7 separate regions of the Homo sapiens genome follow, and regions 2, 3, 4, 5, 6 and 7 are each reported to be linked to region 1. Evidence: microRNA targets listed by miRTarBase, many of them from high-throughput screens and not tested one by one. Region 1 holds a microRNA gene; each other region holds the end of a gene's coding sequence.

Region 1 (3,148 bases):
ACATCTCGCCATTTTTATAAAAAAGCAAACAAAAAGCTGTTTATGCATACATGTATTTATATAAGCTTAGAAAAACTATGGTAGGATCCACACACTATAAAAAATGGTAGTGATATTGAAAGGGAGAGACTAGGGCTATTTTTTCTTTAACTTTGAATTTATAATTCTTCAAAAAGAAGAAGGGATGGAGTGAGAGAGGAGAAAATCTGCCTTAAACACATCGCTCAGAAAGAATCACTATTTTTAAATTGTATTTCCTCCGACTTTTATAGAAAATACAAAATTGTTTACAAAACTAGTTAATACTATAAACACTGCGCTTCCTCCGCATCTGAGTTCATATTAAGCCATATTTGAGGAAGGCCTTCATATGTGGCCTTCCCTCCATGTCAACGAATCCTCATTTTTAAGGGCTACAACATATTCGATGTCTGAAGTTACTGTAGCTTACTTCACCAATCTTACTGGGGGACATTGAGATTGTCTCCGGCTTCCCCCCGCAGAAACAACTACAACAAACATCCTTGTACATACATATTTGCCCATTTGACTGCCTACTTAGGACAAATTCACAAATGTGGAATTCCTAGGCCAAAGCTAATACATCGGAGTTTTAACCCACAGCTCCAAACTGGCCTTCTGGAAAGTGGGTTTTCGTTGTTTGTTTGGGGTTTGTTTGTTTTAAATCTATCACACTCCCACCGACAGGGCAAGGGAGTGCTGCTTAACGCAGAATCAGGAGATCAAACTTTAGCTGAATTTGAGCGACCTCTTCCCAGTGACACGGCGGGGGGTTTTCCAAGCCCTTTTAAGGAAAGGAAAGGGATCTGGCGAACCCCGAGACCCACCCGCCCTGGGCTGGAGAGGCGGCGCGCTCTGGCTTTCCGCGCTGGCACAGGGGTGGGACAAGCCAAGTTTCCAGGAGACTCGCCCAGCGCGGGCCCGGCCCTCGCAGCGTGGGGGTGGCCGGGCGTCCCCGCGGCGCTCCTCGTGGGGCGGGGCGCAGGCGGGGCGGGGCCCCCTCTCCAGCCGCCCGCCCTCCGGCCGCGTCCCCGCCGGCCCTGCAGACGTGGCGGGGCGGGACCCGCTGGGCACTCCCGCGCGTACTCGGCCGCCTGAGCGGTAAGAGCCCCGGGCACTCGGTCCCCATCCCCTTCCCCGGGGGGCGGGCGAGCGCGGGGGCGGCTGCCCGGGGGTGGTGGGAACACCATACCTTGGCGCCTCGTCCGGGACCCACGAATCCTGCCCTCTGCGTTAGTGAGAAGCAGTGGTCAGGGAGGACCCGGCTCTGGGGTGAGGGTCTGGGGCGGCGCGGCCGAGGGACCTGCGTGGGTGCGGGCGTGTGAGTGTGTGTGTGTGAGTGTGTGTCGCTCCGGGTCCACGCTCATGCACACACCCACACGCCCACACTCAGGGTCTGCCCCCTCGGCCTGCGTGAACCTCCGCGGAGCCTGCCTGGATCTCCCAAAGTATCCAGTCCTGGCACCAAGCAAGTCTGGAAAAGTGCCCCCAATGGCTCGGGGCCAAGTCAGAGGTGGGCTGCAGGGTCCCCCAGCCCGGGCACGAAGGGAGCAGGTCCCTGTAAGACAGAGGCCTCGTCCCAGGGTGCGCCTGCCCTCGGCCTTGGCACAGGGAGCTCAGGCCTTGACCTCCCCGCTCCCCTCGCCTTACTCCTCCCCCAACAGCCGACCCACGCCCTGCCTGCTCTTCCAGTCCAGCCAACACTCTAAGCAGGCACCGCCTCCACTCGCAGCCCCCGGGATGGGTCCCACTCCCTACCGCAGATCCCCAGGCCCCCTCCACCCAGTCGGCTAGCCCTCGCCTCTGCCATCCGGTGAGTATTTCCAGGCACCTCAGACCAGGCGCCTGAACGTCACTGCCTTTTCTTAAGTAGGAAGACATCTCTCTATGGGCTGTGAGAGCATTACCTATGCCCTACTGATCCCATCATTTCCCATCCTAAACATCTTGAAGGACACAGGCAGGTGGCTTCTTAAATCAGTGTGCTCTGAACTCCCTGTGACCTCAGCCAACCTGTGACAACTGAGAATGAGACAGGCTCTATCCTCAGAGCCTCTTTTTGCCCTCTCTGCAGCCTAGTGGCTCCTTCCCTACCCCACCCATAGGCCTGCGTCCCCGCCCTCCTTTCTTCCATCAAGCCTGAGCTTGGGAAAGAATCTGATAAACTTCTTACATTGTAACCTTTAAGTGAAGGAATGAGACGTTAGGGATGGATTTGAGGCACAAGTGAGACAGTGCAGAAGGAATTTGAGGGTTGGAGGGGGCTTTCTTGAATCTGAGCGATTCAGACCATAAAAGTAAACTTGTCTTTGTTTATTTGACCAGGCTTACATCAAACATGGTTTCTCTTTTATTAATATCAAACACAATGTATTTCAATTCAGTAAATATCTGAGGGACAGAAACCAACCTAGGTGCTGTTGGTCACAGTCTTGGAGGACAGAATGGCAGAAGTAAATACTCCATAAATACATGGAATAGAAATCTGTGCAAAGTGCCAAAAACATAGAAGAGGTAGCAGTTATTTCATTGGAAGCAGTGGGGCAGATTAAGGAAAAATTCAGAATGAAAGGTAACATTAGACACTGGGTGTCTAGAGGAATAGGAGTTTGCCAGGCAGCTGGAGGAAGGGCAGCACCGGGGCAGAGGAACCAGCGTAAGCAAAGGCAGGGAGATGTGAAGAGTTATGGGGAATGGAGAAAAGACTGGTGAGGCAGGAGTGGAGGATACTGAGAGTTGCAAGAGGTGGAGAGAGATTGGAGCTGGATTATGATGGGAAGTGTGAAGATATTTACACCTAATGGTTTTTGAACAGGAGAGCAAATAGGTCCAAAAATGCCTGGCAGCCTCACAGAGAATAGGCTGGAGCCTGGGTACGTAGACTTGTCAAGCTTTATACAAACTCATACAAACTGCTACAACCTGATTAAGAGCCTCTCATCCAGAGTTTTTATTCCTGGTCCTTCGCTGACTGGCACTGTTTTTGTTTTTTTTTTTTAACTGGGGGAGATGACCTCACACAGGATATCATGCTAACCAAATTTTTATGCTGCCAAGTCAGGCCATTTTTTTTAAAAAAATCCATCCACTGTCACTATTTCATAAAATGAAAGACATTTTAATACCA
Region 2 (3,148 bases), not on the chromosome of region 1:
TTAAAAAACTAAGACTATATTATATGTACTTTCTAATAAATATATTGTGACTATTATCCCAGGTTATCAAAATTTTTAGTAATATTTTAACAGCAGATACAAGCTATGGCTATGCCATTATTTATTTAAGATGCCAATGTTAGACATTTAGGTTGTTTTATGATATTTTTTGCTTCTCCTTTCCCATTGATTATTTATTACCTCAGATAAAAGTTCAGTCAATCCTCATTACCCATTTCTAAAAGTAGACACAACTACATTTAGGAATATTGCTTCAAACATAGCATATATATCTGATGTTGATATATTGCTTTTTTCATGTTTTCTCTTACAGTTCTTATAGTCATGAAATACCGTACTTGATTTGATGACAGAGATCTTCATTAAACAAGATCTGGGACAGTAATAAAAGATTGCTGCATAATTTAAATGAAACCTATGTGTATATAACTTTCAAAACTTCTTTTTCAAGAAACTAAGAGGCAAGTATCACTTCAAATTGGAACGTTGAGAATGTCCAATTATCTTCTCCCTTTCTAACAAAATGTTCTTTTAATAATTATGTTTAAGGCAAAGAGAACTAGCCTCTATTTTTCCATATTTCAAGGATCTAATTTGAAACTAGATACTTGCCAGTTCATTATTTGTGTATATAAACACTGATTATAATATTTCATATTAATATTTTAATGGCATAAGGACTTGCATTATTGCATTAGGGAGCGGGTCATGCTGGGGGTCAGGAAGCCTGTGTAGAGTACCAAATTATATGCTGAAAGAGATGCATAACCATTCTGTCAATATTTGCAGAAATATAGTTCCTTTCATATTACAGTTGTTTTGCAAGCAATTTCCACATTTATAGGTGTAACAAAAGCTAAATGTTGTAAATGTTGTTGCCCTCAGGTATAACTAAAAACATTCCAGTAAATATATTTTTGACTGTGTAAGAGAATGTGTAGTAATTTTTTTGGCATTGGATTATGGAAATGGAAATTTTTAAACAGTGTGAAAAAACATGGTATGGCATCATAAAACTGGAGATAATAAAGTTATTGAAGAGTGTCATTGGAGTATTTGAAAATGACCAATATATAGCTGCCAGTCATGGTCCAGTCTGTTTTCTGTTAAACTCCAATAAAGAGAGACCAGTCAGTCCTAATGTGAGTAAATGAAATTTACAGGTAACTTACTTACTCCTTAATTTTATTTTAGTTAATAGCCTCTAACTTCCAACTATCTCATTTACCAAAAGTACAAAAAGTAGCAAAACCATCTATTAATACTTTGAATTTTATATCTTTGCATTTCCTGTTCATCCTTGAGGAGATGTATGTTGCACAATCAAATTTTGCATCAGCCAACAGTAATGAGTAGTAGAAAGTCAGGAACCTATGTGTATATATATATATATATATATATATATATATATATATATATATACACACAAACACACACACACACACACACACACACGCACACATATGATAATCAGTCAGTCGGTAACCAAATGCTAGAGAGTGACCATTAACCTAAGCCTGTTTTTATAATGAAAAAATGTGTTAACTTTAAAATATGCCAACCTCCTTGTGTCTTTTAAACAAGTCAGAGTGAAAATACATTGTCCCCTAAGGTGTGGGGAGAGGAAGCTTTATAATAAAATTAGTGATTCTGCAGAAACTTGTGCACTGGATATCTTGACAATATGAATATAAAACTCCCTAAATTAAAAATAGGGTTAATAGAAATTATCAGTATTTAAATAGGGAAAAATGATTTTATGTTTATTTTATTTAGGTTTTATTTCTTTGGTCATCTTAATGCAAAATGAATAAAGCATAGAATCTGGGTTTGGTGTTTTTTTGTCTGTTTTTAAAATTCTACAGGATTATTACTAGGAGGCAAAAAATGCTGTTTAGAATGGAAAAAATTTGAAGAGAGAAAGCAGACTGAGACACTCAAGACACCTGCAAGTTATCTAAGAAGATCTAAATAGAATTACTAAATTTTATAGTTTGCTTAGAGCATTTAGAAGGAGATAAAGGTCTTACATACTATAGTGTATATTGTCTTTGGTCTCTATGCTCTTTGTAAATGTCAATTAATATAAACAGCATCTGAACAGCTAATAAATCTTTTAAGTTAAGATACCCAGAAAAATGAGCATTTTTAGAATTTCAGTAGCTAATAATTCAGGAATGGAAATATTTTAACTGAATGGACAGAATCAGTCCTAACATTTGTATGTATGTCCTTTATTTGAATTGGAACTAGGCTCATAAGTGGTTAATTTTCCATTAGTTGATGTAGAAATCTGGTTTCTCCATAATATCTACAAGTGAAGATGAAGATTACTTCTCAAAAAGTATCCATATTTCCAGTGTTCCTTTTAATAAAATATGCCACTTTTAAATAAATAATTACAAAATGTAAAATTATAAAATTTTTAAATTTAAATAATAAGTAACAGTAAAATTTTTTGACAATATATATGTCACTGTCTTTGTAATTTAAACATATTGCTGCCTGGGATATGGGTAACAGAATTATCACTCATGGAACTTTGTAGTAGTGATGGCTTGGTTTGTAATTCATCATTTCATCTTTCTTGGTCTTGATTAATCCTGAAATCCTTAAAATGGCTGGCATGGTTATGACTTTATTGTGGTAACCTTGGAGATATAAGCCCTCTTACGATCAAAAACAGAAGAAAAAAATATATTGTTCAAACTGATGCCAGGCCTACCTTTATTCCCTCCCTTAATTACTTTTTTTCTCATTCAGCTCAGATCATCCTGCACTTGAAAAATGAAGTTTTACCACCATCAAAACTATCATTATTTAACAACAAGTGAAGATCAACAGAAAAATTCAAGTAGCTTTGCAAATACTAGTTGATACTCAGTGAAATCACGTCACTATTTTGATGCCTGAATCCATACCTTTGTGATTTATGTTTAATTACAGAAGCCTATTGCCTTGCAGCAATTTTGTTGTTATAATACTGATTAATTGGTTACTCCTTCTTATTATAACTCAGTAATACCTGTGGTCATTTGGTTCCTCTATCCTGACAAAGTTCACTGGAAATTGCCCTCAGATTTTATAAACTGGGGGATTTCTTAATTAGATAAAAGTTCATTACTGA
Region 3 (3,000 bases), not on the chromosome of region 1:
GCCACAGCCCACCACCGATACAGGTGTCTGCTCTCCACCACAGTCCTCCTCTAGTGCAGGGTACTGCACTTCACCACAGCCCACCATCAGCACAGGCCTCAGCCCTCTGCTACAGCCCTCCTTTAGCACAGGCTGCTGCAATCAGCCACAGCTCTTCTCTGCCACAGGTTATTGCCCTCCATCGTAGTCAGGCCCAATCATCAGTCAGTTTGCAGCAAGGTTGGGTGCAAGGTGCTAATGGACTATGCTCTGTTGATCAGGGAGTGCAAGGTAGTGCAACATCTCAGTTTTACACCATGTCTGAAAGACTTCATCCCAGTGATGATTCAATTAAAGTCATTCCTTTGACAACCTTCGCTCCACGCCAACAGGCCAGACCGTCCAGAGGTGATTCCCCCATTATGGAAACACATCCCTTGTAAAGCTAAAATAGTTACTTCAAATTTTCAGAAAAGATGTATATAGTCAAAATTTAAGATACAATTCCAATGAGTATTCTGATTATCAGATTTGTAAATAACTATGTAAATAGAAACAGATACCAGAATAAATCTACAGCTAGACCCTTAGTCAATAGTTAACCAAAAAATTGCAATTTGTTTAATTCAGAATGTGTATTTAAAAAGAAAAGGAATTTAACAATTTGCATCCCCTTGTACAGTAAGGCTTATCATGACAGAGCGTACTATTTCTGATGTACAGTATTTTTTGTTGTTTTTATCATCATGTGCAATATTACTGATTTGTTTCCATGCTGATTGTGTGGAACCAGTATGTAGCAAATGGAAAGCCTAGAAATATCTTATTTTCTAAGTTTACCTTTAGTTTACCTAAACTTTTGTTCAGATAATGTTAAAAGGTATACGTACTCTAGCCTTTTTTGGGGCTTTCTTTTTGATTTTTGTTTGTGGTTTTCAGTTTTTTTGTTGTTGTTAGTGAGTCTCCCTTCAAAATACACAGTAGGTAGTGTAAATACTGCTTGTTTGTGTCTCTCTGCTGTCATGTTTTCTACCTTATTCCAATACTATATTGTTGATAAAATTTGTATATACATTTTCAATAAAGAATATGTATAAACTGTACAGATCTAGATCTACAACCTATTTCTCTACTCTTTAGTAGAGTTCGAGACACAGAAGTGCAATAACTGCCCTAATTAAGCAACTATTTGTTAAAAAGGGCCCCTTTTTACTTTAATAGTTTAGTGTAAAGTACATCAGAAATAAAACTGTATCTGACATTTTAAGCCTGTAGTCCATTATTACTTGGGTCTTTACTTCTGGGAATTTGTATGTAACAGCCTAGAAAATTAAAAGGAGGTGGATGCATCCAAAGCACGAGTCACTTAAAATATCGACGGTAAACTACTATTTTGTAGAGAAACTCAGGAAGATTTAAATGTTGATTTGACAGCTCAATAGGCTGTTACCAAAGGGTGTTCAGTAAAAATAACAAATACATGTAACTGTAGATAAAACCACATACTAAATCTATAAGACTAAGGGATTTTTGTTATTCTAGCTCAACTTACTGAAGAAAACCACTAATAACAACAAGAATATCAGGAAGGAACTTTTCAAGAAATGTAATTATAAATCTACATCAAACAGAATTTTAAGGAAAAATGCAGAGGGAGAAATAAGGCACATGACTGCTTCTTGCAGTCAAGAAGAAATACCAATAACACACACAGAACAAAAACCATCAAAATCTCATATATGAAATAAAATATATTCTTCTAAGCAAAGAAACAGTACTATTCATAGAAAACATTAGTTTTCTCCTGTTGTCTGTTATTTCCTTCTTTTATCCTCTTAACTGGCCATTATCTTGTATGTGCACATTTTATAAATGTACAGAAACATCACCAACTTGATTTTCTTCCATAGCAAAACTGAGAAAATACCTTGTTTCAGTATAACACTAAACCAAGAGACAATTGATGTTTAATGGGGGCGGTTGGGGTTGGGGGGGAGTCAATATCTCCTATTGATTAACTTAGACATAGATTTTGTAATGTATAACTTGATATTTAATTTATGATTAAACTGTAATTTTGTAACATAAACTGTGGTAATTGCATAATTTCATTGGTGAGGATTTCCTTTGAATATTGAGAAAGTTTCTTTTCATGTGCCCAGCAGGTTAAGTAGCGTTTTCAGAATATACATTATTCCCATCCATTGTAAAGTTCCTTAAGTCATATTTGACTGGGCGTGCAGAATAACTTCTTAACTATTAACTATCAGAGTTTGATTAATAAAATTAATTAATTTTTTTTCTCCTTCGTGTTGTTAATGTTCCAAGGGATTTGGAGCATACTGGTTTTCCAGGTGCATGTGAATCCCGAAGGACTGATGATATTTGAATGTTTATTAAATTATTATCACACAAATGTGTTGATATTGTGGCTATTGTTGATGTTGAAAATTGTAAACTTGGGGAAGATTAAGAAAAGAACCAATAGTGACAAAAATCAGTGCTTCCAGTAGATTTTAGAACATTCTTTGCCTCAAAAAACCTGCAAAGATGATGTGAGATTTTTTCTTGTGTTTTAATTATTTTCACATTTTCTCTCTGCAAACCTTTAGTTTTCTGATGATCTACACACACACATACACACACACACACACACACGTGCACACACACACATTTAAAGGATATAAAAAGAAGAGGTTGAAAGATTATTAAATAACTTATCAGGCATCTCAATGGTTACTATCTATGTTAGTGAAAATCAAATAGGACTCAAAGTTGGATATTTGGGATTTTTCTTCTGACAGTATAATTTATTGAGTTACTAGGGAGGTTCTTAAATCCTCATATCTGGAAACTTGTGAAGTTTTGACACCTTTCCTATAGATATAGGAATGAACCAATACGCTTTTATTACCCTTTCTAACTCTGATTTTATAATCAGACTTAGATTGTGTTTAGAATATTAAATGACTGGGCACCCTCTTCTTGGTTTTTACCAGAGAGGCTTTGAATGGAAGCAGG
Region 4 (3,148 bases), not on the chromosome of region 1:
GTAGAAAATTCTGCATGTTTGCAGTGACTAGAATCAGATAGTAGTGTGGTGGTTTTTTTTTTTAATCATTATGAAGAGTGGGAGCTTGCAGGTAAGGCTTCTGTGGTGGTTTGAAAAGCAGAAAGCAATAAATGAAACAAAGTGTTTGTGTAATATATTCCTGCCTTGTCTTCTTCACTCAGAGTTGAAATAGGTTTTGCAGTAAAGCTGGAAAAAAAAAAGAAAACAAATGTTCAAAACTGTGTGTGTTGGTGGGTGGAATTTCCTTTGCTTATAGTAGTTTCAGTAGTAACTATATGTTTTTTTTTCCTTTCTTTTTCACAGGCACAGAAAACTGAATCTGTAGATAACGAGGGAGAATGAATTGTCATGAAAAATTGGGGTTGATTTTATGTATCTCTTGGGACAACTTTTAAAAGCTATTTTTACCAAGTATTTTGTAAATGCTAATTTTTTAGGACTCTACTAGTTGGCATACGAAAATATATAAGGATGGACATTTTATCGTCTCATAGTCATGCTTTTTGGAAATTTACATCATCCTCAAGTAAAATAAATATCAGTTAAATATTGGAAGCTGTGTGTAAGATTGATTCAGCATTCCATGCACTTGCTTTAAAATTTAGTCCTGTGCATACTGTGGTGTTTTTACTGTGCATATTTGAATTTTTCATGCAGTTTTTCTAGAGCAATAATCAGTGGTGCTTTTGTACCTAGGTTTTATGTGATTTTAATGAAACATGGATAGTTGTGGCCACCTGCTGACTATTTGTGGTTTAAAATAAAAGGTTTACTTGTCTGCAGAATACCTGACTCTTAGTATCTTTACTGCATTTTGGGAGTGTTTCATTTTATTGTTGCAGAAGATATAAAGAATTTTGATAGACCTTGCCATAGCGGTATCTCCAATAAGTCAAATAAGATTGTTTCTTAATTTTCTGGCCTTTAACATTGTTACTATTTTAATAAAATCATCTATGAATGCTAATGTAGAAGAATTACATCTAATTCACTTTATACCAGAAGTGGCCAGCAATGATTACTGTATAATAAAACTTTATAAAGCACTAATTTTTAAAAATCCTTATAAATAGGATATAGTGCTGCTAAATCAAAGCTAGTAAAAAAAAAAAAAAAAAAAAAAAAAAAAAAAAAACATAAACTAAGGCTCAACTTTGAAAATCTCCCACTTTTGAAATGATAAATACTAAGTCACATTTGTACAAAATCCTTCGCATTCAGTTGAGAACTTCACAGCTTTGAAAGTGCTTTACCCAACATGAGCATGTTTCAGCCTTGCATCAGTTTGAGAATGGAGTTGGCATGGGTATTATTAGAGCTCCTTTCTAGGATAAGAAATAGGGATGTGGAGTGTATTTGACTTACTGGAAGGAGAAAATCCAGGCTGGAGTCTTGAATTTTAAACAGTGTCTTTATGTCTATGAAAGGACATAGCAGTGCCAGGAACAGAGGAGTTATTTTATACATATAATTTTTCGTTGTTGTTTGCAACCTGAGAAGTTTGGTAACTGCATAAGCACTCCAGGAAAGCTGAATTCTGGGCATTTGTCTTAAATGAAGACTTGAATCTTTTAAGATGGCAGGTGGTGCCTGTGCTGCTCAGGGACTCCTGCAAAGAAGCTGTTGTTCCTTTGGGCCTTAGATGCTTTTGTATTGTGCTTATGAACAAAAACAAAGTTCCTCCTCCAGATTATATTTTGGGCCTAAGAACTTAAACTTGCCTCATTGTCCCAAGTCTGTCATTAGTTGACTGCATATATCAACCATGTTATATACAGAATAATCTTGTTCATAGTTTACCTGGCTTCTGAGTATGAAACATACTTTAATTCATGAGTTTTGGACATGCTAAAAACTGCTTTACTGCAAAGAAAAATATCTAGTATCCAATGAACTCTTCACAAAAATATTTTCAGTATACAGTTAGTACTCAGTTGAAGTATATTGCTGGCTAGTTTCCATTCCAGAAGTGAATCATAAATTCCCTAGGTTTACTTTTTAAAAAATTATATAAGTGATCCCAGTGATTTTTTTTTAGAAGACCAAATACTACAATAATACATAAAGCAAAAAGTCAAAATCTTTTTTCCTCCCATTCCTACATCCCAGAGATAATCACTGCACACTATTTTCTCTATTTTCTCTTTCTCATGTGTGTGTATGTGTGTGTGTGTTAGGGTTATGTACACACACACATATATATGTATATATATAATTTTTAAAAGAGAATGAATCAGTATCCTATTTTGAATTTATTCAATCTGTAGTTGGAGAAATAGATCATTTCTAATATTACAGTGCTGTCAATGATACTGCAGTAAACATGCTTATATACAAAGTTTTTCTACCTATGTATTTCTTCTGCTCAACTAAATAACTTCCCAGAAGCAGAATGTCTGAATCAAAGGGAATATACATTTGACATTTTGACTGCCTCCAAAAAGGATGTACCAATTTCCCCTTCCATCACCAACATTTGAATACCATCTCTTTCCACCTTTGCCAGCACTCATTTTGGTCAGTCTAATAAATGAAAATATGCCTCACTTTTAATTTTAAATGTATTCTATTATTAGTAAAATTAAACTTTTTCTGTTTAATGGTCATTTGGATTTCTTCTGTGAATTCTGATTTTGTCTTTTTCTGTTGGGGAGTCAGTGTGTTTTAAATCATTGTTGCTCATAATAACCATTGATGCTATTACTATTAATAGCATCAATTATTACTATTATTGCTATCAGTAATAGCATCAAACACACAAAGATCAGGGGTTCTGTAGGCTATTGGTGTCTACTTAAGTACAATATATGGATATTATCGTGGCCACATTGAAAAACCGAGCAGGTATCATAGAGACCACAGCTACCCAAAATAACCCAGGATCCCTAAATTGGTCCCCCAGAACTTGAAGACTTGATGAATATACTGCCAAAGATAAGGACACACTACCTTCAACTACATGGAAGCTGTGGGACTCTCCATGCACTGCCCCACTGCTACCCCTTTGGTGAATTTATAGAAAATTAGAAAAAGGTTCTTCTTCTCTAAGACACTTGTCTGCTAATTTGCTGGAGAATCATAAAAGCCCTATGAATCTACAATCACTTTGAGTCAGATGGTACCCCCG
Region 5 (3,000 bases), not on the chromosome of region 1:
GCAGGTTTTAACAAGGTAAATTCAGTTTTGAAACTTACATATTTTACATAGGATGGGACACAGAAAGCTAGGCTAAGGAAATGGATTCAAGACATTTGTATAACACATAGATGGGAAGAGGATTGAACAGAAAAAATACCTCTAGTACAAAACCTGAGGAACACTAATATTGAAAGAGCAGGCATAAGAAGAACCTGTAAAAAAAGATAATGTAGTCAGTATGCTAGGAAAAAACTAGGAGAAAACAGTAAAACAGAAACCACAGAAGGTGATTGAGAAATAGAATTAACTCACTCTTTTTAATGGCTGTGTAAGATGACATAGTATAGATGTACTACAATGTAATAGAACTAAAAACAAAACTAAGCATTAAAAGAAGTTAAATGTTAAGTGCTTTGGAAGACAAGGTTCTTCAGTTGTGAGAAGCGGATTCCATCAACCTTACAGGAATACTGTGGGGATTGAAGTGGATCCTATTCACATACTTCTTACACTATGAGGGCATTCAATACACGTCAAGTTTTCCTTTGTAAAATTAAGTCACTGGCACATGTGGCTAAGATTATGCTTTTACTCCTAGAACTCTTCCCAATCACTCTTGCAAATAACCAGTCATTGCATGTGTACTAGTTTTGTTGTGCCCCGTTATACTCATTGCCAATAAACGTGCCTTCCTCCCACAACCCCCACCCCCCACCCCGACTATACTCTTGGTACCAAATCCTTTGATTTATTGGTTGCACCAAAGTCACAGACTGGCAGAATAAATACTGGTGACATTTTATTTCTTGTCACCTCATTAACGTAGATCAGCTCAGGCTGATTAGTTCTCCTCTACACATTAGTTAGAATGGCTCTGTAACTTGGTGCTATACAGAGAGTAGAATGGTTTGTGATTGTTGCTTTCCTAAGGGGATTTAAAGTTTTTCATTTATTTTTTGTGTGTGCATGCACATGACACTCTCATACATTCTGCCCCATTTCTTTTTTCTTCCCTCAGAGCTAGCTCAAATAAAATAAACATCTTTAGCTCTTTCTTTAGAAAAAGAAGGGAAAATCACATGCCAATCCAAGTAGAGAAAGATACAGAAAACAGAAGCAGGTGGGAAAAGGCACTTTATAATTCATTAATTTATATTGGTATCTCTTAAAATTTTTCTTTTTATGAAAAAGAAGTGAAGAATGTTAGAAGGTCATAAACTAATAAGAGACCACATAGTTTAAAAGATTTGCCACTTTTTTTTTTTAGCTTTATTGACTATTACCAACTTTCAGTATGGTTCAAATAATTAAATACTGCAACTGGGACATTAAAAATACAAGCTAATTTACCAAAATAATTGTATTCTGAATATTATGTACAATATTATACATTTTACATTACATAATGGGTTTTTATACATAAAGGTAAGATTTCTGATTATTGGAAATACAAAGTACAACTGAACAAAACATTCCTATGCGTACATACACAATCACTCAACTGGAACAATCAAAACCATCTATGAGTGTGGTTATTAAAAAATAAAATTACGTTCATACAATGGTAGAAAATGAAATGTTTTTATTAATTTGATTATTAATACAAAACCACACATATATGAATTATATAACCTAGTGTTATATATTTAAAAATCTTTATGCTTGCAACTGAAATGTCTCTACTCCAAGGGAAGTTTCTGATTTTTAATTTTCTTATTTTAAGGAATCTATTATATTCACAATGATTAAAATGCCTTACACATAGGCAAAAAGCAGACCCAATCCCAGCAAACAGAAAAACCATAAGTCTATCATATCACCATATGTTTCACCATATAGTTTTGAAAAATAATCCTATTTGCAGTTTGGTATGTCTTCATATTTATACTTATTATCAAAGTGATTGCATATTGAGGCACAGAGCTTAAAGAGGAAATATATATTACTTATAGGGAACCAGACACTGAAACAAGAATATCAATCAATGGCTTCAAACAAAAAAAAAAAAAAAAAATTGAGAATGGGTGCTCGCATAGAAACACCACACGCAAACACTCATTAGTTTTTAACCAAGTCACTAGTCCTTCCAAAAGGTGAATATGTTGATGTGTCCATACCTTGTTTGAACACTGCAATACCTGATTAAGACCAGGATACTGCCACATGAGTTTTAATACTCTCTCATTTTTAAATTCAATTCCTCTTAAACAGAACAGCTATGATTTTAAAGCAATGACATTTTTCTAATTGATCTGAAAAGTCTGAAAAACAATGTCTTTACAACAAAAATGGATTTCCAATTGTATGTCACTTTGTACATAGATCTCACTCCAGAGATACATAGACTGGTGAAAATTCTATCAGAGCTATACATAAAGACATCAGAAGGGCAGCAATTAGTAAACAGGCCATTCTCTTTAAAGTCTGCATGGCATTTTGCAGTACTCTCTGTTCTTAAATCCTGTATTTTATCAAAGGCAAACAAAGAACACCTGGGAACTGGAAGCCAGAAAGGTAACACGCTGAAACATATACAAAATCAATGAGCTTTCCAACATCACATAATCTATTAAAAAAATTGGGACGTGGGGGCTCAGGTTTACTTTATTGTTTTTCTTCTTTTTCATGTTTAGCTTGAATATAAAAGAAGCTCTAGACCTACGTTATCAAAATATATTCATATAAATGTATGCGCATTTCTAATACAAAAGTTTTAAAAAAGTCTAAGTTCTTAATTTTTGTAATTAAATATCCTAGAGTTCAGTAGGCAGATTTATGTTTGAGCAGCTTGAAAAGAATCCGTTGGCTGAGCGTTGTCTAGAAATTGGGTGCCGCTACATTTCAGCTCTTCGATGTGATTTCTCAGCAACTGCAGCCCCGTCTTCTTCCTCCTCTTCTTCCTCCTCGTAGTGTTCCTCTCGGCCTTTGGGGCGGTTGTCATCTCGAACTTCTTGCTCTTCTCCATCATTATTTTTATCATCAGTCTTAAAATTAAAAGAAAAAAGAAAAACTAAGAGA
Region 6 (3,000 bases), not on the chromosome of region 1:
GAAATATTTGACTGGCTCCACATATTACTTACAAGGACTGATAATGAATTCTAAATTAACATTAGCCACATAAACAGTTTCACAGTATTTGAGTACAGTGGCTCTTTATGGGATGTCTTGGGATGCTAACATCATATATTGCATCTATATTTAGCTCTTCTCTCCTTTCCTACAGTCTGGAGGAGGAAATCTTTTTATATGAATTGCATTTTTGTTACAGTAACATTTCTCATATAGACTACGTAAATTGCTAACCACATAACCCTTTAGTGAGTTAGTTATAATTTGCTTGTAAAAATCTAATTTGTTAACCATCATTTTTAGGTATTTACTACCAGGGAGCACCCAATTCTTCTTGAGAACACCAACCTACAACTTGAAGTACAATTCACCTGGAATGACTCGCTCCAATGTTTTGTTTACATCCAGATATGGCCATCTGTGAAACAGAAGGGAAGATCGCCATTGGTTATACATAACAGCAATTCATTTTTTTCCTCTGAAGTTGAACATGCAAAGAACATGACCATTAAGTGCTGTTTTATGTATATAAGACATATATATGTGTGAAAATATATGCACATATGCACCCTAATAACATATATTTATTATATTAAATGATATATGAAAGAAGAATTAGCAGAAAATGGAATATAAGACTTAACCTTTCTGGAAACGTAATAAACCATGTTAAAATTGTTTACACAAATATGTGAATGTCTAGAATCTGCTAGGTTTATAATTAATTCCTTCCTACTAGAAATGTTATTTTTGCTGCAGAGTATATAAAACAAATTGATCTTGAAGATCCAATTACAGTGTTAAATTATTTTCTAGATAACATGCCTTTTGACCTGAAAAAGGGTTTAGTATAATACCTTAAAAATTCTCATATATAGTAGCCATTTTAAATGAAACAAAAAGATTTAGAAGCCTGGTGTTGCTTGATGATAAGATTAAGAAGTTTAAAACGGGTTTATCATTACTATAGCACACTGTAAAGTGCTAGAAAAGTCATAACCTGATTCTCCAATCTTTTTATTCCTCTATGTGGAAATTTAGCTACTTGTAATAAGGTACATTTTCAGTAAGGATCTGGTGAGATCATATTATGATCTAACATGAAAGACAGGCTGGGCGCGGTGGCTCACGCCTGTAATTCCAGCACTTTGGGAGGCCGAGGTGAGTGGATCACCGCTGGTCAGGAGTTTGAGACTAGCCTGGCCAACATGGTGAAACCCCATCTCTACTAAAAATACAAAAATTAGCTGGGCGTGATGGTAAGTGCTTGTAATCCCAGCTACTTGGGCGGCTGAGACAGGAGAATCACTTGAACCTGGGAGGCGGAGGTTGCAGTGAGCCGAGATTGTGCCATTGCATTCTAGCCTGGGTGACAAGAGTGAAACTCTGTCTCAAAAAAAAAAAATAATAATAAAATAAAATAAATAAATAAATAAAAAGAAGATAAAAATAAATAAATAAAATGGAAGACAATCCAATGGGTTAAAAATAAAATGTAAACTAGCTTTCATTTTTACTTTTCATAATCACATAAAGGAACAGAAAATGATGGTAACAAAATCTTTCTATATGGCTTTTATGTCTTATACCACTCATTTTTATTTGGAAAGTATATCTTTGATGGGTTTAACATGTGGTTAAATACAATTTCTCCTGTTTCGCAGAAGTAGAAGAGTTGACACATTTCACTCATTTTAGTGTTACAGGATAATGAGACAAACTTATTTTTATAAATCTCTCAAGGTTGAAATCAACTTATATTGCAAATTCTAATACAGTAGTTTCTCATTGCACCACAGAAACAGTTAAAGGATTGTGAATAGAAGATTTCAATTATCACATATTACAAGTCATCAGTGTACCCTTGAGGGTTTTTAAAAAATCAAAACAGAGAACGAAGTGTTCTTGTCCAAAGTTGTTATGCATAAGTTTCATAGCAGTTTACTTCCTTTTCTTGAATACAGTTTTTAAAACCAAGAGTGAGCTTTCAGTTTTCCATAAAAATATAAGCCGTACTACTTTGACATTGAAATCATCAGTGCAGCCATCACTTCTTAGAATTTATTTAAACTTCTTCTCCCAACAGTTTTATTTTCTTTTAGCTGCTAATTATTTTCGAAATTCATGAATGTTTTACCTCCTTTTACTATTCTGAAAGTTATTTCAAGAAGTGGCCCCAAAGCAGGAGAACTGAGAGGGGCAAATTGGCCTGGTTTAATTCACAGCCTGAAGAATTGGCAACCTAAAGTTATAAGTTAGATGTATTTTGCTTTTCAAGCCATCTTCTGAGCCTTTTTTAGGCTGAAATGATTTGTTTATTTCCCAAATTATTGCTAGCTACTTGATTTTTTATGGCTACCTAACATCCACATTTGGTAGATACTTTTCCTCTCTGCATGCATCCCAAAGAAGAATTTGCTATTTGTGGAAGAAGAGAATAAGGGTATCAGAATGAAGGAAATTACAGTGACTACACTGTTTATGACTCCATTTTGTGAATTCTTAAATATGCTATGGATTTTTTTTTAGAAAAAATAATGCAAAAATTGGGATATTACAGAATCACCATAAAGATGATCAACAAGTAATAAGTCTTTTCATGGAGTTCATTTTTCTTTTAAATTCATGATTTGGCCACAAAAATATATATATAAGTGTCTGATATATGATAACAGCCCAGTTTCTCGGCCACTCATTTGCATTATCTTAAATCACAAATAATTACTTAATTTGCTGGAGTGTGTGCTTTGCAACTTTTGTACCAGAGCAAAATTTGTATTTAAAACAAAAAATAAGAATGCCCATCACTAGGAGAAACACTCCTCACAGAAAACACACACACACACACACACACAATTTAAAAACTGAGTAAATTTAAATGTATGAAAGTACCCCACAAATTGATTTCAACAAATAAATTTCATTTCTCTAGCTACTTATGTCTGGCCTTATTTTGAGCGTTACAATTTTATTGCCTTC
Region 7 (3,148 bases), not on the chromosome of region 1:
CACAGCTGAGCCCCGGGGAGGCTCAGGGCCAAGTCTGGGGACTGAAGGGTCAGGCCCCTCCCTTGGTCCCAGTAGAGGTGGCAGGGGGGCCATCTGGGAGGGTGGCGGACGCTGGCGATGGCCAGCGGCAGCCGGTCATTCTCTGCGTGGATTGTGAAGGGAGGGGTGGCACGGGCCAGGGCTGGTCCTGGGGGGGTGCCTGTGGATCCCTCGGGCCTCCCCTCCCAGCTGAGGTCCCCACGTTCATCCTGTGTCCATGTCCTGCTGGCCGCTCACCTTGGTGTAACGCAAGGTCCATGTGTCCCCAGGAAGCAGGAAGAGCTGGTGCAGCAGGTGCGGAAGCGGCTGGAGGAGGCGCTGATGGCCGACATGCTGGCGCACGTGGAGGAGCTGGCCCGTGACGGGGAGGCGCCGCTGGACAAGGCCTGCGCTGAGGACGACGACGAGGAAGACGAGGAGGAGGAGGAGGAGGAGCCCGACCCGGACCCGGAGATGGAGCACGTCTAGGGCAGGTGCTGCGGGGCCACGGGGGCTCCCTGGAGTCGGGTCCTGGCAGTGGGGACTGCCTGGTGAACACAGATGTGCTTGGGATGACGGGTGCCTCCCAAGAGCTTCCCATCTCCCTAGAAGAGCCCAAGCGTCCCCGTCCCGTGGAGTCGCTAAAGCCAGCCCTCCCTGTCCTTTCCAGAGGCCCTGCCGAGAGCCCGTGCTGCCTGCTGGAGCCGCCTGCAGACGCGGTCCTCGGCCCCACGTGAACCAGGCTCGGCGGCGAAGCCCAGCCTTGGAGACACCCAGGAGGAAGGCCGTGCTCCTGGCTCCCTCCTCGGCCCGTCCCCACTTCCCGGGGCCTCGGGGCACACAGCTGGGGCTGCCCCCACCCGAAAGACCCTCCACGCTCGTCCTCTACAGAGTCCGGCTTCGGGAAGTGCCGGGTGCTCCTGGGCCCTGCCTGGCTCCCTACGACCTTTGGGCTCGAGGCCAGCTCCTCCCCATGCCCGCTGTCCCAGCTCCTTGAGACTGGAGAGCAGCCAGCAGGTGCCCGGCAGCTCGGCGCCACGGCTTGCTGACAGCTGGGAGGGTTTCTCGGTCTGGAGGCGTAGTTTTGAAACTCACATCACCCACTGTGCAGCGTGAGGACGGGACTCTGGTCTGCTGTGGGGGGCATGCAGGACGGCGCCACTCTCTGCCCTGCCATGCGGCTGGTGGTGCCACAGAGCCTCACCGTGCCTGAGTGGCATGCCCAGGAGGCCGCTCTCCTTCAGTAAATGTAACACAGTCGAGGCACGTCATCGGGCAGCCTTCCCTGTGTGCCAACGCCAGCCTTCGCTTCTGAAAACCAAACTCCAGCCGCTGCCAGTCGGGACTTGGTCGCCCGGCGCTGCCAGAATGCTCCACTGCCAGCCGGCCCCCCTGCCTCGGTTTCCCTTCTGTTTAGTGGCGACACAGGCACCCAGCTTTGGGGTGGTGCTGACGCTCCCAGGGGTGCCAGGAGCCACTGGGACAGGGTGAGGCTCCCAGACGCTCCTCGAGGTGCCCAGCTCTCCAGGGAGCTTCTGGCCCAAGGCCGTCTGAGGGATCTGCTCCTTAACCCCCCAGTGCCTTGGCGAGGGCAGGTTCCAAGCCACAGACGCCTGCCCCGAGTGGACTCTGCGGCCAGTCCCTGGTGCCCTCCTGGCCCTGCTGCCCAGTGAGGGCTCCTACGGGTGGGTTCATTGGCCTGGGCCCAGCGAGCCCCCACCTGCATTGACCTTAGGCCCATAGAGAGGGCCTGTCCCGGTGCTGCCCCAGCCAGGATCTGGTCGCTGCCCCAGGGGGACTGATGGGCAGAGTCGCCCCTGTGGCTGGACTGTGACCATCCCTGATGGGGCCTGACCGCGGGAGCTGAGGAAGCGCCGCTCCACCGTCTGCCCTCCAAGGACCCGCATGGAGGCAGTGGGCTGGCAGCTTCCTGCTGCTCCCTGTCAGAGTCAAAGCACAAATCCTCAGGACGGGCTCAAGGGCCAGGGCAGCCGAGGGAAGCTCCAGGTGGGGACCACGTCTTCCTGAGGTTGGTGCCCACTGGCTGGGACCCTTTGCAGTGGGGTGGCCTCCCCTCTGTCTGCCTGGTGGAGGGAGCCGTGGGCGTGGGGACGTGACTGAATAAAGCCACCATGGGTGGATGTGCTTGGAGCCTGGAGTTCGGTGCGTCCGCTAGACTTTGGTGCCCACGTTTGAGCTTCTGTCTTTGGTTGGGTGATGAAAGGCTGAAAGCGGTGTGGGGACAGGGCCAGCAGGTCCCCCAACCTCGCGGACATTCACAACCCAAGAGTCAGGCTTAGGGGTATTCAGAGAAGACCAGGCCGGCCTGGGCATCTGTGGGCAAGGGCCGTGCCCCCTGAGGTGCCGCTGGCTCAGCCTAGGGATCGTGGGTCTTGGCCCTGCTGCCCCGGTGAGGAAGATGGGCTGGGGCTCAGACCCAGCACCGCTCCTTCCAAAGGAAGGGAAGCAGGAGGGGCTGCCTGGCAGGGAGGGCCCCCCAGGTCCTCAGGTCCTGCACAGCCGCTGCAGGGAGGGGAGCTGTGCCCCGGGACCCTGGACTTCAGCTCACTAGCCATGGCCACTGGAAGCTGCTTTCTGGACCTGAAGGCTGGGAGGCCACCCTCCCCTCATCTGCCCGGCACTCAGAGACACTCTGTTTCCCTCTTCCCATCTCCCACTGTGTCCCTGTCTCCCTTGGTCTCTCTCTGTCTCTGTCTATCCCTGTCTCTATCTCTCCCTCTTGTCTCTCTCTTGCGCCGTCTCCCTCTCTGTCCCTCTTTGTTTCTTGCTCTCTCTCCTGTCTCTCTCCCTCGGTCTCTGTCTCTGTCTCTTGCTGTCTCTCCCTCTCTGTCGCAGCCCAGCTTCCTGTCACTGACAGACCCCGATCAGTCCCTCTGATCCCGGGGTTCTGGCCATGTCCTGGCCTTGGTCTGAGATGTGATGATCCCTACCCCTGCCACAGGGCCCTCCCCACTGGAAGCCCATCCAGGCCCTGGGCTGTCGCTGTTGACGAAGCTTGAGGGTCCTTTCCTCTCTCCCTGAAACCTTGGGGACCCCCACAGGCCAAGGCAATACTGGCCTTTGCTAGAGGTCGTGCCCGGTGAGAAGTGAGTTGTAGGCGTGGGCACCT

What was found. The annotated mature microRNA hsa-miR-574-5p reads UGAGUGUGUGUGUGUGAGUGUGU and lies in region 1 at 1,344-1,366, shown strand. An mRNA with a match to its seed (bases 2 to 7 or 8) in the 3' UTR can be bound and repressed. Matches are read on the target gene's strand: a 7mer-m8 pairs with bases 2 to 8, a 7mer-A1 pairs with bases 2 to 7 and ends in A, and an 8mer does both.
Region 2: the mRNA of VAMP4 is a reported target of hsa-miR-574-5p. Seed matches in the 3' UTR shown: 7mer-A1 at 1,955-1,961.
Region 3: miRTarBase lists PCDH11Y as a target of hsa-miR-574-5p. The part of its 3' UTR that is shown has no 7-base or 8-base seed match.
Region 4: miRTarBase lists HMGN3 as a target of hsa-miR-574-5p. The part of its 3' UTR that is shown has no 7-base or 8-base seed match.
Region 5: the mRNA of GOLIM4 is a reported target of hsa-miR-574-5p. Seed matches in the 3' UTR shown: 8mer at 1,506-1,513.
Region 6: miRTarBase lists TTLL7 as a target of hsa-miR-574-5p. The part of its 3' UTR that is shown has no 7-base or 8-base seed match.
Region 7: the mRNA of MBD3 is a reported target of hsa-miR-574-5p. The part of its 3' UTR that is shown has no 7-base or 8-base seed match.

Annotation. Positions count from the first base shown.
Region 1 is chr4:38,866,713-38,869,860 of GRCh38, forward strand. It overlaps MIR574 (microRNA 574), which reads left to right and starts at 1,320; the gene lies at 1,320-1,415. FAM114A1 (family with sequence similarity 114 member A1) reads left to right here and starts at 1,094. Exons shown (of 15, transcript NM_138389.4): 1 at 1,094-1,122; 2 at 1,686-1,834. It also overlaps a transcript of TLR6 not described here. RefSeq lists silencers at 858-1,337, 1,388-1,437 and an enhancer at 1,645-2,228.
Region 2 is chr1:171,701,721-171,704,868 of GRCh38, reverse strand. VAMP4 (vesicle associated membrane protein 4) reads left to right here. Exons shown (of 8, transcript NM_003762.5): 8 at 335-3,148. The coding sequence ends at 363. Among named protein-coding and RNA genes, the nearest start is that of VAMP4, 39 kb to the left of the region's middle.
Region 3 is chrY:5,737,521-5,740,520 of GRCh38, forward strand. It overlaps PCDH11Y (protocadherin 11 Y-linked), which reads left to right. Exons shown (of 6, transcript NM_001395587.1): 6 at 1-3,000. The coding sequence ends at 422. Among named protein-coding and RNA genes, the nearest start is that of TTTY23B, 500 kb to the right of the region's middle.
Region 4 is chr6:79,198,903-79,202,050 of GRCh38, reverse strand. It overlaps HMGN3 (high mobility group nucleosomal binding domain 3), which reads left to right. Exons shown (of 7, transcript NM_001201363.2): 7 at 325-806. The coding sequence ends at 363. Among named protein-coding and RNA genes, the nearest start is that of HMGN3-AS1, 33 kb to the left of the region's middle.
Region 5 is chr3:168,007,453-168,010,452 of GRCh38, forward strand. GOLIM4 (golgi integral membrane protein 4) reads right to left here. Exons shown (of 16, transcript NM_014498.5): 16 at 1,237-2,966. The coding sequence ends at 2,817. Among named protein-coding and RNA genes, the nearest start is that of GOLIM4, 87 kb to the right of the region's middle.
Region 6 is chr1:83,867,407-83,870,406 of GRCh38, reverse strand. It overlaps TTLL7 (tubulin tyrosine ligase like 7), which reads left to right. Exons shown (of 21, transcript NM_024686.6): 21 at 325-3,000. The coding sequence ends at 445. Among named protein-coding and RNA genes, the nearest start is that of LINC01725, 7.9 kb to the right of the region's middle.
Region 7 is chr19:1,575,699-1,578,846 of GRCh38, reverse strand. MBD3 (methyl-CpG binding domain protein 3) reads left to right here. Exons shown (of 7, transcript NM_001281453.2): 6 at 309-512; 7 at 689-3,148. The coding sequence ends at 507. Among named protein-coding and RNA genes, the nearest start is that of MEX3D, 8.9 kb to the right of the region's middle.